Linked DNA regions of Homo sapiens: all the other regions are linked to region 2. The links come from fine-mapping of genetic effects on plasma protein levels. Region 2 holds a variant in brackets. A gene starts in each other region. All regions are shown on their reverse strands.

Region 1 (4,171 bases), not on the chromosome of region 2:
ATTCTGCATTTTGCATTTTATCATAAAATCTTTCTATGGCCTGGTGCTGTGAAGAGAGGCAGAGTTGGCACCAAAGGGCCGGATCCTTGTCCCTCCAGGGTCCCAGGTGTCCCACAGTGTCCTCAGTGTCACACGCTGAGACCCAGGCCCCCAACCCCTGAGCAGAAGTAGGGAGGAGCATTACCATTCGGGCCTTCAGCTTCTTCATGTCATCAGAGAGGACCTGCGGAAATAACGGTGACACTCAGTCTCCATGTGTCACCTTAACCTTTCCTCCAGGATAATTTATACACACACACACACACACACACACACACACACACACACAGAGACACATGGCAGAGGTACAGGATAAGAGGAGACAGCAGTCCCAGGAGCCCCTCACAGCCTGGAAAGACCGGCCAGGGCTGTCCTCGAAACGACTCAGAAAGCGCTTCTCTCAGGAGCCGGCTCAGCTGGGCAGGCCCAAGAGCAGGGCCAGCATGGGCCTAGGTGACCCCTCCTCACAAGAGCAGGGCCTGCGTGGGCCTAGGTGACCCCTCCTCACAAGAGCAGGGCCTGCGTGGGCCTAGGTGACCCCTCCTCACAAGAGCAGGGCCTGCGTGGGCCTAGGTGACCCCTCCTCACAAGAGCAGGGCCTGCGTGGGCCTAGGTGACCCCTCCTCACAAGAGCAGGGCCTGCGTGGGCCGGGGTGTCCTCCCTGCACACACACACCCCCCCATGTACACACACGGGAGGATGGACACTGTCCTGGAGCAGGCTGGCTCAGCTGGGTTTCCCACAACCACTATGGTCCCAGGTGAGAGTTGGCCAAGGAAAAAATGTTTAGGGACATGACAATTGAGAAGGTAACAGCAGCCATTCCTCTCTGATGAGCTGATTAATATTTGGGGTGCCAGGTAGGTCCACCCTACAACCTGCCACTCTTCCCGACTGCCAACATGCAGACCCACAGGTCCCGGGCCATTCCTGCCTGCAGACACGTGGCTGCATCCACAGAGGCCAGAGGCACCCCACAGAATCCCCGCTGAGCCCCCACGTCAAGGGCCTAGTCTCGGGGGTGACATGCCTGGTTTCCCCCACTATAGAGTGGTGACAGTCACCCACAGAGTGCGCAGGGCCTGGGGACATATTCTGGGCAGGGCAGCTGTCTGCACACTTTCAGGCAGCGATGGTCCCATCCCGCTAGCCTGATTTCCCAGGAACCAGGGTGAAAGCAGCACCGTGCCGACATGCGGGAGCCATGTGTCCTCCGGGTCACTGTCCTGAACCTGAGCCAGGCCACATCATGGAAACCCCTATTGTCACAGGCCGAAGAGCTCCCTGGAGGGTGTGGTGGGCCTAGCATTTGCGGTGGGGCAGTGGTAGAGGATGGGAGGTCGGAGGGAACCCAGGAAAGGAGGAAGAGACACCAGGACCCACACAGGCCTTGCTCTTGGGCCCACCCAGCTGAGCCGGCCTCTGAGAGAAGCATTCTCCGAGTCGTTTCCAGCAGAGCCCTGCCCCACCCCTGCCCCGGGCTTTCCGGGCTGTGAAGGGCTCCTGGGACAGGTGCTCCCTCTCATCCACACCCCTGCCGTTCTCCAGCGCCCCCGACACATATGACCTCCAGCGCCTCCACTGACACTCTCACCCCATCACTATCCTCCTGCCGCTGGGTGCCCCTGACTGAGCCCTGACACACAGGCACCTCGGGAAATACTGAGGGCACCCGCACCCTTACGGTCTGTTTTCAGACATGCCCACAAAAGCACACGCAGCCTCTCACTCACCTTCGGGAAGCACATGGCGGCCAAAAGTTCAAGGAGCCAAGGCCTGCTGGCGAGGAACAGGTGTGAGGAAAAGAAAGTGTCTCAGAGAAGCACCCTCCTCCCCAGAGGGTCCTCACCTTCGGGGACCCCAACTCCCCACCTGAGATGACCCAGCTCCACTGAGACAGTCACCTTCTGCACGCAGTCTTCCTGGCACAAATACTCAGCTGGTTTTATGGGGAAAGTGGGGGGTAGTGGGCGGAGCCTCTCTCAGGGCAGGAGGCCTTGCTGAGTGCGTGAAAAACAGACAGAGACAGAGACAGAGACAGAGACAGACAGAGATGGAGACTTACCCGAGAGAGACAGAGGTCTGGGGTCCCTGGGAGGAATGAGGGTCCGTCCCTGGCTGGGCCCCTGCTCCCTCTGAGCTGGGGTGGGAGTCTCTGAGCCCAGGAATGGGCTGCTTTCCCCACCCCACCAGCCTGAGAGTGGGGAGGGGCAGAGGGAAAGTCCAGACTCGGGACAGCTGGCTGGGGAAACTCCCTGAGTACAGGAAGGTGACGTCAGCCAAGTGGGATCCAAGGACAAAGGAATTTGGACCCTGTCCTTGCATGAGGTGTGCCCCGGCTCCAGAGGCCAGAGAAACTTCTGGATCAGAAGGAGGCAGGAACTGCCGGACCTAAGAGGGGCGCCGTGAGGGCAGGGGCCTGTGCACGTTGGAGGGGTGGCTAGTGGTGATGTAGATCTACCTGTGGGACAAGATAGGACCCTCTGCAGGGTGGAAGGCATCCTGCCGGCTGTCTGAGCTTGGCTGACCAGGTCCTTCTGACCCTTCTGGGCCAAGGCAAGGCCATCTGGGGCCGAAGGTCACTGGTCTCAGCAATCTTGGGGCTCCCCTACGGGCTCTTCTAGCTCCACGGGTTCTGACCCTCCAGCCTGGCTGGGCCTCCCACCTCCTCCTCACGGCCCCCAGCCCCCTTCCCCCAGCTGAGCACAACCACGCCCTTGCCTTTGGGATGGTTTCCTGGGGCCAAACTAAGGAAGTACCACGACAAGGGGCCCTAAGTCGAAGACGTCTCTTCCCTCACGATCTGCAGGCTGGAGGTCCAAGGTCAATGTGGGCAGCGTGGGGTCCTTCTGAGGGCCCGGAGCTGGGATTCTGTTCAGGTTTCTCCTGCCCTTGTAGATGGCCATCTTCATCTTCATCACGTTCTGCCTGGGTGTGACTGTCCCCCTTTCCCCTTTCCAAAGGACACCAGTCATATTGAAATAGGGTCCACCCTAGGCCGGGCGCAGTGGGTCACGCCTGTAATCCCAACACTTTGGGAGGCCGAGGCGGGCAGATCACCTAAGGTCAGGAGTTCTAGACCAGCCTGGCCAACATGGTGAAACCTTGTCTCTACTAAAAATACAAAAATTAGCCTTGCGTGGTGGCCGGCACCTGTATTCCCAGCTACTCGGGAGGCTGAGGCAGGAGAATCACTTGAACCCGGGAGGCGAATGTTGCAGTGAGCTGAGATGGTGCCACTGCACTCCAGTCTGGGGGACAACAATGAAAATTCCCCTCGGAAAAAAAAAAAAAAGAAGTAGGATCCACCCCAGTGACCTCATTGTACCTTAAGTACCTCCATAAAGACCCTGTTTCCAAATAAGGGCATATTCTGAGGTCCTGGGGCTTAGGAATTCAGCATGGATGCAATGTATCCCATTATATTCTCAAAGGGGACTCGGAGAGACAGAACCTATAAAACACGCTCCATGGAGAAATCTTCCCTTGGGTGAAGTAGACAACGGTTGTCACCTGCCTGCCACTTAGGAGTCCATTCCACTGTGCGCAACCGCCTTTCCACATACAGGATGTCCAGATCTTTCCCTGAGTATCCTCTGAATTGTAGTGGGAGACAGAAGGAAGCCACTCCTGCACCAGCTAAAAGTCATGCTTTAGGCTTCAGCTCCAACCCTAGCCCCTCATGACTCTCAAAGGCCACCATCTGAAGACATCTTGGGATCCACCCAGACTGTATGTACCCTGTTTTTATAGCTTTATGGTGATGCAATTTACAGGCAATGCAATTCACTCATTGAGCTGTACAATTCAAAGCACAGAACTGTGCAGCTATCACCACAACCCATTTTAGAACATTTTTATCACCTCTAAGAGAAATTCTGCCCTTCTGAGACATCACTGCCAGTCCTCATTTCCCTGGATAACCACTCATCTACTTTTTCTTTTTCTTTTTTTTTCTTAGAGTCTCGCTCTGTTGTCTAGGCTGAAGGGCAGTGGCACGATCTCGGCTCACTGCAACCTCTGCCTCCTGGGTTCAAGCAATTCTCCTGACTCAGCCTCCCGAGTAGCTGGGATTACAGGCACGTGCCACCACACCCAGCTAATTTTTGTATTTTTAGTAGAGACGGGGTT
Region 2 (4,171 bases):
CCCAGCAGATGCTGCCGTGAAGGACACACAGCCCAAGGACGGGGTGGAGATGGATGCTCCGGTGAGGCCCCGCCCCTGTCCCGGGCACCAAAGGCCTCCTGGTGCCAGATCTAATCCAGCAGGACTTCTCTGTCCTCCTTCCCCCGGCTCTCAGCATCGTCACGGTGGACCCCTCCTTGTCCAGCACGCTGCCTCCCGCCTGCTGCGACCTCACTCTCTTCTGCTGTCCTGGGACCTCGTGGGCCTCCTCCCGGGTCCCCTTCCTGCTCCTCATCCTCTGTTTGGCCGTCTGGTTGTTAGAGCTCTCCCCAGGCCTCAGGAGGATGAGGAATAAATGAACCGACCCGGTCCCCCAGGCTCCCCTTCATTCATTCAACCAGCGAGTGTTCCCAGGGAGCTCACTGTGGATGGGGCTCCCCATGGGAGCTGCAGACACAGCAGGGAGCAAAGCCGCCCCCGCCTCCTGAGCTCACCTCATGGTGGGAGACAAAATGCAAATAAATGCATCGTGTCCAGGAGTGCAACGTGCTGTAAGGAACATAAACCAGGGAAAGGGCAGAGAGTGTGGGGCAGTGGGGCCAGTCTGAATGGAAGGGGAGGGCTGTCTGCTCAGCTGTCATCTGAGAAGCCTGGACAGAGTGGGGCACACGATCCTCTGATGGACGAGCCCCTGCAGGCAGAGGAAACAGCCGTGCAAAGGCCCCGAGGCAGCAGCGAGCTCTTGCGGGAAGGCCCGTGAGGCTGCAGCCAAATGGGCAAGGTCAGAGTGAGGAGCAGAGGCCAGAACCACAGGGAGGGAGCGGCCAGACCCTCCACGGCCTTAGGGCGTCCCTGAGATTCCATCAGGAAAGGGATGTAATCGGATCACCCCGGGAACAGTGAGGAAAATTGACTCCAGGAGGTCAGGGGGACTCAAGGACACCCCCCACCACTGTCTCTCTCCAGCAGAGCCCACACGATGAAGACCCCCAGGCAGTGACGTATGCCCCGGTGAAACACTCCAGACCTAGGAGAGAAATGGCCTCTCCTCCTTCCCCACTGTCTGGGGAATTCCTGGACACAAAGGACAGACAGGCAGAAGAGGACAGACAGATGGACACTGAGAGAGTCCTTTCCTCTCCAGGCCCCCAGGCCTCCCCCACCCCCACCACGTTCCTTCCCTCTCACTCTCCCCCGCTGCAGGCTGCTGCATCTGAAGCCCCCCAGGATGTGACCTACGCCCAGCTGCACAGCTTGACCCTCAGACGGGAGGCAACTGAGCCTCCTCCATCCCAGGAAAGGGAACCTCCAGCTGAACCCAGCATCTACGCCCCCCTGGCCATCCACTAGCCCACGGGGGACCCAGATCTCATACTCAACAGAAGGAGACTCAGAGACTCCAGAAGGCACAGGAGCTGCCCCCAGTGGACACCAATGAACCCCAGCCAGCCTGGACCCCTAACAAAGACCACCAGGACATCCTGGGAACTCTGGGACTCACTAGATTCTGCAGTCAAAGATGACTAATATCCTTGCATTTTTGAAATGAAGCCACAGACTTCTCAATAAATCAATGAGCTGAGAAAACTGAAACAGAAATTAGAGCATGGTATAAATTTGGAATGATAATGTAAATATTACACATTAAATGATGAAATCGGAAAACTACAAATGAGCGAATGAATTAGAAAAGAATAAAACCTACGTAATTAATGACCTTGGCAATGACAGAAAGAATTTAGAAAAAGAACAACAAATTATTCCAAATGAAGGTGTGAGGAAGGGGACAAAAATAACAAGAGGAGTTACTAATGAGGGCTACGTGAAAACTCGATGAAGCCAAAAAAGCTCATTCTTGAGAATGTGAATTACATTCACAAATCCTAGCCACAATAAGCAAGGAAAAAAGCGGGGTTCAGGCACACATTTCCATATGGGGGTGAAACAGCAGACACCACCACAAATCTGACACATATTGCCTTTATTTTTTTCACTTTTAAGTTCAGGGATACATGTGCAGGTTTGTTAGACAGATAAACTTGTGTCAAGGGGATTTGTCTTGGTTTTTGTGTGAGGGTTTTTGTTTTGTTTTGTTTTGTTTTTTGAGACGGAGTCTCGCTCTATCACCAGGCTGGAGTACAGTGGAGTGATCTCGGCTCACTGCAACCTCTGCCTCCCGGGTTCAAGCGATTCTCCTGCCTCAGTCTCCCGAGTAACTGGGACTACAGGCACCTGCCACCACGCCCGGCTAATTTTTGTATTTTTAGTAGAGACAGGGTTTCTCCATGTTGGTCAGGCTGGTCTCAAACTCCCGACCTCAGGTGATCCGCCCGCCTCAGCCTCCCAAAGTGCTGGGCTTACAGGCGTGAGCCACCACGTCCAGCCCATACATTTCAATTTTAAAGGGATGCGCCCTAGTCCTTAGTTAGTCTCTCCTCATCTCTATAAAA[T/C]GTTCAGCTACTCACCTCTTGGGCTATTGCTAGACATCGTTTTCTCTTCCTTCTTTCTGACGCCTACAATAGATAGGACATTCCCCCTCCTCATTCTATTCTCCCAAGTACTTTAAATTGCAATTTATAAAGTTTCTATGCTACACTCTAAAAAAAATTCTGTTTTGTTTTCTAATTTCATAATTGGTGCTTCACTGTGTCTTGTCCTCGAAGGAATGAGTATTTTGATTGTGTTCATTAAATCTGATTTTTCTATGTCTTCTAATTATTTTATATAATATTCATTCTGCTGTAGAAAAAAAAATCATATAATCCTGCCTCAGAAATTCAATGTCCTCTGTATTTCTCAAATATTTAAACATGTTTAACCTAAGATGGGTCTCACACATTCCTAGTACTCCTTTTGACCATGATAATCCTCATTAGTGAGTGTGGATTGTCAACCATAGCACTTTGTGTTTGATTTTTTGGTTTGTTTTTTGTTTTTATTTATTTATTTATTTATTTTTTGAGACGGAGTCTCACTCTGTCACCCAGGCTAGAGTGCAGTGGCGTGATCTCAGCTCACTGCAACCTCTGTCTCCTGAGTTCAAGCAACTCTCCTACCTTAGCCTCCCGAGTAGCTGGGACTACAGGTGCCCGCCACCACAACCAGCTAATCTTTTTTTTTTTTTTTTTTTGTATTTTTAGTAGAGATGGGGTTTCACCGTGTGGCCAGGATGGTCTCGATCTCTTGACCTCATGATCTGCCTGCCTCGGCCTCCCAAAGTGCTGGGATTACAGGCGTGAGCCACCACGCCCAGCCTGTGTTTGTTTTTGAGACAGGTTCTTGCTCTGTCACCCAGGCTAAAGTGCAGTGGCGCACCACCCCAGTTCACTGCAACCTCCGCCTGCCAGACTCAAGCGATCTTCGACCTCAGGCTCCTAAGTAGCTGGAACTACAGGTGTGCACCACCACACCCAGTTCATTTTTGTCTTTTTAGTAGAGATGGGGTTTCACCATGTTGCCCAGGCTGGTCTCGAACTCCTGGGCTCCAGCGATCTGCCCACCTCGGCCTCCCAGAGCGCTGGGAAAATAGGCGTGAGCCATCGCAGGCAGCCAGTCATAGCACTTTTTATCATTAGGATGATTCCTCTTTCTTCTCATTCTTGGACACTCATCTCCCAGTGCCTCATCTGCCAGAGAGGGTTTCTACCAGGGCTGCACTGGGCGTTAGGCTTGAAAAGAGGAGGACGGCACCACCTGCCCGGGTCTTGTGAGTCTGCTCAGGCCTGTAACCAGCAGGGGAGGGTCCAGTGTGAACCTCATGTCTGACAACTCTACAATGAATCTATTTCACACACACAGAGGGGGAGGCTCAGGGCTGACCATAAACCTGAGTCAATGAGCAGAGATACCCCAGTGCCATCCACAAACACAGGGGACGAGGAGCCACAACTTCCCACTTTCACCCAAAACCCCAACCCCTCCCTGACTGTGAGGGCCCTGGGGTTCTCCTCTGTCTCATATAGAGGCGGAAACCTCCCTTTTAGTGATTCCCTGACATTGCAAGTCACCAGAAGCCAACTCAGCTCTGACCTCGCTGCTTCCTGAGGTTTCCTGCCTGTGTCAGGAAGTTTCATTTCTCATTTCCTTCTATGGCTGCGTATTTCAGAAACATGTATTAGTCAGGGTTCTCTAGAGGGGCAGAACTAACAGGATAGATGTATATATAAAGGGGAGTTTATTAAGGAGTATTGAT
Region 3 (4,171 bases), not on the chromosome of region 2:
TCAGCCAGCAAGACTGTAGGGCATCAGGGATCTACAGGTGGGGAAACTGAAGTCCAACAATGAGTCACAGGCCTCAATCAGGGAGCTGTTGGCAGAGCTGCATCTGTGACGCCTGGTTTGTTGTCCACCTTTCCTCGATGTGCAGGCTGGCACAGCTGTGAACGGCAGTGCTGGGTGTGTGCAGAGCTCTTCCTAGATCTTTCTTACGTGTCATCCTGTCTGACGCCCAGGGCAGGGATCGCCAGCCCCATGTTTCCATCTGGAAACAGAGGCCTTTGAAGGGAAAGGGGTCCACCCAGAGTTACTTCAGCCAGATCACATTAGGCTGAGGTTAGAACTTAGGTTTGGGGCCCCAGGCTCACTGTTATGTTCCCCAAGGTGCATCTGTTCTCTCAGGCACCAGCTCCAGGGGTCCCTGAACACTGCCCAGCAACCTCCCCAGTCACCTGAGGGTGGCTGGAGGGGACAAGCTAGTTCAGCCCTCAGGGAGGGCAGGAAGTGGGTGAATTTCTCACTTTATCTCCTTTAATTCTGCATATAGACAGCCCGCCTCTCACCCTACCATAAATAGCTCTTCCTGACAGAAGTAACCAACCCTAAATCTGGCTTCTGTCTCCTGTGTGCATGTACATGTAATGTTTACTACATCTGCGTGTTTCACCAGGACATAAATAGTATTTTTACATGTTTTCAGACTTCATGTAAAGAGATCCTACTGTGTATTTTTTAGAGATTTTATTTCCTCCCCCATTCAGTATGATATCTGTGAGATTCAATCCACACTGGTATATACGTAGCTCTAATTCTGACCGCCTTTTACAGATGAGACACGGGATCGGCAAGGTTACAGGACTTGCCTCGAATCATAGGTCTTGTAGGTGACCGAGACAGAATTTGGACTGTGTGATCCAGAGCCCTCTCTGCTTCTGGATCCTGCTGTCACCCACCTCCTTAGCACCTGCCTCCTACTCCACGTGCCCACGCCCATCCTGCTGCCCTGCTTCCTCTTGTCCTCTCCTTGGCAGGCATGTGAAAGACCGTTTTCACAAAGGTGTTAAGAACTTCCCGGGTTCCCCCACTGAGGGCACATGCATTTGAGGAAGTGCTGGGGAAAGCTCATTGGAGTGGGAAGCCAGGGCTTTGGGTCTGGCTCTACCAGCTGTGTGACCCCAACAAATCCCTCTGAGCCTCACTTTCCTTATCTGTATTATGAGGCTGCTTATAGGGGCCTGTGAATTTTATTAGGCGGGTGCAAAAGTAATTGTGGTTTTTGCCATTTAAAGTAATGTAATACCATGTCAGGGACTCGGGGACTCTGTCACTGACCAGAAAAAGGAGAGGAATTCTGAAATAGCTTCAGCATGAGGAGCAGGGTAAGAGAGCCTGGTGACAGACCCTGGCCAGCACCCCTTCCATCCCAGCCAGCAAGGGCCGTGGCCACACTTACCATGTGCAGCATGTCTGAGGCCGTCGGGGATACCTGGGCCCGGTAGAGGTTGTGCAGCTCCACCATCAAACGTTTCTCCTCATCTGTGAGGGCTCCAACGGGGCCTGTGGTGGCCACCAGCAGTAGCAGTAGCGGCAGCAGAAGCATCAGGAAACTGCAGGAGCCGTGCATGGTGGCCAGCCGTCTCTCCTTCTCCCGTCCAGGGGTCTGGCAGCTGGATTTAAAGTCCTTCCCACACAAGCACCACCCTGGCTGGGGTGGGGCAGTGGGGGCCGTGTTTGAGGCCCAGCCCGACTCACACAATGTCTCAGGGAGGGCTGGGCGCTTTGGGTCCCGACCAGCATCAAGTGCACTCCCCTTGGAGTCCTTGGCAAAAACCTCCTTTCTCTTGGTAACGGGGGCTCAGGCCAAAAGCTGTGTGAGTTCCTAAGTTGTGGACAGATCCTTCAGGGGCAAAATCACAGTAACCTCTGCAGAGCTGTGACTGGTTGCACCCAGGTCACACCCACTGTGTGTTGAAGATAGATAAGAGAAAGGAAACCACAGACCCTACCCACAGAGGAGTGGGCAAGATGAGGAAGCTATAGGCTTTTGAAAGGACAGAGGAAGACCAGATGTATTTGATAAAAGGCTGAGCCAACCTAAATCAGAATCCTGGTTCTGCCCCTTGCTATCTGTGTTTTGGCAGCTTTCTCAAGTGAATCAGTGACAATAATAGTACCTATCTCACAGGACTAGAGGGAAGATTCAATGACATATAATGTATGTAAAGCACCTAGTATGGTGTCTGGCACATAGTAGGCCCTCAGTAACAGTAGACAACCCACTCATGTGGCCTGGGCCTTAGCAGGCTACCAGCCCCCTGTGGAGGCAACATTCTTGCCTGCGGGGGGAGAGGCCAAGGTCTTCCCCACTCTAGCTGTATTCAGGAATAAGGCCTTTCACTATGGCAAAATTTTGGCTTCCAGGTATCCTCTCTGAATGCATGTGCTTGACATGCTCATTTGGAAGTGGGATGCTGGGACCCCTGTGCTCTAACTATGTAGAAATATAATGTGTCTGTTTCTTAAATCAAGAGAGAGCAGAAAAGCAGAAGGTTGAATGAGCTGATGCACCAGGAGCTCTGAGGGGAAGGTATTGGAAGGGAAATAGCCTTAGCAGTCAGGTGCTGGCATTATAATGACCTTGACCTTGCAGGGGCCATGACCGGTTCATGAAGCAGGAAGCTGGAACCAGTACTCTTGAGGACAGCTGGGATCCTTGAAGCCTGCTTCTTCAATGAATAGGGACCTAGAAAAAGTCTACCCACAGGCTTTGGAAGATGACAAGAAAACCTGTCCCTGCCTGAGTCTCCAAGTAAAAATAAAAACAAAACCAAGATGGATTACACACACATACACACACACACACACTTATTAGAATTAATAAAGTCAGCAAAGTTGCAGGATACAAAATTAACACATAGAAATTAGTTGTTTCTATACACTAATAATGAAAAATCCAAAAAGGAAATTAAGAAAACAATTTCATTTATAAAAGCAATGAAAAAGAATAAAAAGAATAAAATTCTTACCAATAAACTTTTTTTTTTTTTTTGAGATGGAGTCTCGCTCTGTCACCCAGGCTGGAGTGCAGTGGCATGATCTTGGCTCACTGCAACCTCTGCCTCCTGGGTTCAAGTGATTCTCCTGCCTCAGCCTCCCAAGTAGCTGGGACTACTTGCCCACCATGCTGCCCACCATAGCTGCTACCATGCCCGGCAAATTTTTGTATTTTTAGTAGAGATGGGGTTTCACCATGTTGGCCAAATGGTCTTGATCTCTTGACCTCGTGATCCGCCCGCCTCGGTCTCCCAAAGTGCTGGGATTACAGGTGTGAGCCACTGCGCCTGGCCCTTAGCAATAAACTTAACCAAGGAAGCAAAAGACTTGTACGCTGAAAATCACAAGTGTTGACAAACAAAGTGAAAGAAGACACAAATAAATGGAAAGTCATCCTATATTCATGGATTAGAAGACTTGATATTGCTAAGGTGTCAATGTTGCCTGAAGCAATCTACAGATTCAATGCAATCCCTATTGAAATGCAAATCATAATATTTTTATAGAAACAGAAAAATCCATCCTAAAATTTATATGGAATCTCAAAGGACCCCAAATAGTCAAAACAATCTTGAAAAAGAACAAAATTGGAAGTCTTACAGTTTCTGATTTTAATATGTAACCACAAATCTACAATAATTAAAATAGTGTGGTATTAGTATAAAGACAGACATTTAGACTAATGGAATAGAATAGCCCAGAAATAAACTCTTACACATATGGTCAAATGATTTTAGACAAGGGTACCAAGACCGTTCAACGAGGGAAAGGCAAGTCTTTTAAAGAAGACTTAGAAAACTGGAATGTCCACATGCGAAATAATGAAGTTGAATCTTTACCGTAAGTATATTAAAAAATTAACTCCAAAATGGATTAAATACCTAAACATAAAAGCTAAAACTACAAAACTCTTAGAAGAAAATATAAGGGGGACTTCTTGGCATTGGATGTGGCAAGGATTTCTTGGATATGACACCAAAAGCATAGGCAACAAAACAAAAATAAATTGGACTTCATTAAAATTAAGAACTTTCGGGGGCAGAGTGTAGTGGCTCATGCCTGTAATCCCAGCACTTTGAGAGGCCAAGGTGGGTGGATCACTTGAGGTCAAGAGTTCGAGACC

Alleles and levels. Positions count from the first base shown, and alleles are read on the strand shown. Strength reflects both the effect of a copy and how common the allele is.
For the plasma level of the protein whose gene starts at base 1,960 in region 1, allele T in region 2 goes with a higher level than allele C (strong association).
For the plasma level of the protein whose gene starts at base 1,641 in region 3, allele C in region 2 goes with a higher level than allele T (strong association).

Evidence for each region. PIP is the chance, under the fine-mapping model, that this variant and not a neighbour inherited with it causes the effect. The UK Biobank Pharma Proteomics Project read protein levels with antibody pairs (Olink). The fine-mapping took linkage between variants from a reference panel, not from the people measured, so its PIPs are less certain.
Region 1: IL32 starts here. The variant in region 2 is fine-mapped to the plasma level of the IL32 protein (UK Biobank, PIP above 0.99).
Region 3: it holds the start of PI16, and the variant in region 2 is fine-mapped to the plasma level of the PI16 protein (UK Biobank, PIP above 0.99).

Annotation. Positions count from the first base shown.
Region 1 is chr16:3,063,429-3,067,599 of GRCh38, reverse strand. IL32 (interleukin 32) reads right to left here and starts at 1,960. Exons shown (of 7, transcript NM_001376923.1): 1 at 1,913-1,960; 2 at 1,774-1,816; 3 at 185-223; 4 at 1-46. The coding sequence starts at 1,788. RefSeq lists an enhancer at 2,157-2,466.
Region 2 is chr19:54,247,944-54,252,114 of GRCh38, reverse strand. LILRB5 (leukocyte immunoglobulin like receptor B5) reads left to right here. Exons shown (of 13, transcript NM_001081442.3): 12 at 9-61; 13 at 1,183-2,694. The coding sequence ends at 1,329. It overlaps LOC107987463 (a long non-coding RNA gene), which reads left to right and starts at 4,169. Exons shown (of 3, transcript XR_007067341.1): 1 at 4,169-4,171. RefSeq lists an enhancer at 4-621. The variant T/C (reference allele first, on the strand shown) is at 2,430.
Region 3 is chr6:36,952,208-36,956,378 of GRCh38, reverse strand. PI16 (peptidase inhibitor 16) reads right to left here and starts at 1,641. Exons shown (of 7, transcript NM_153370.3): 1 at 1,448-1,641. The coding sequence starts at 1,618.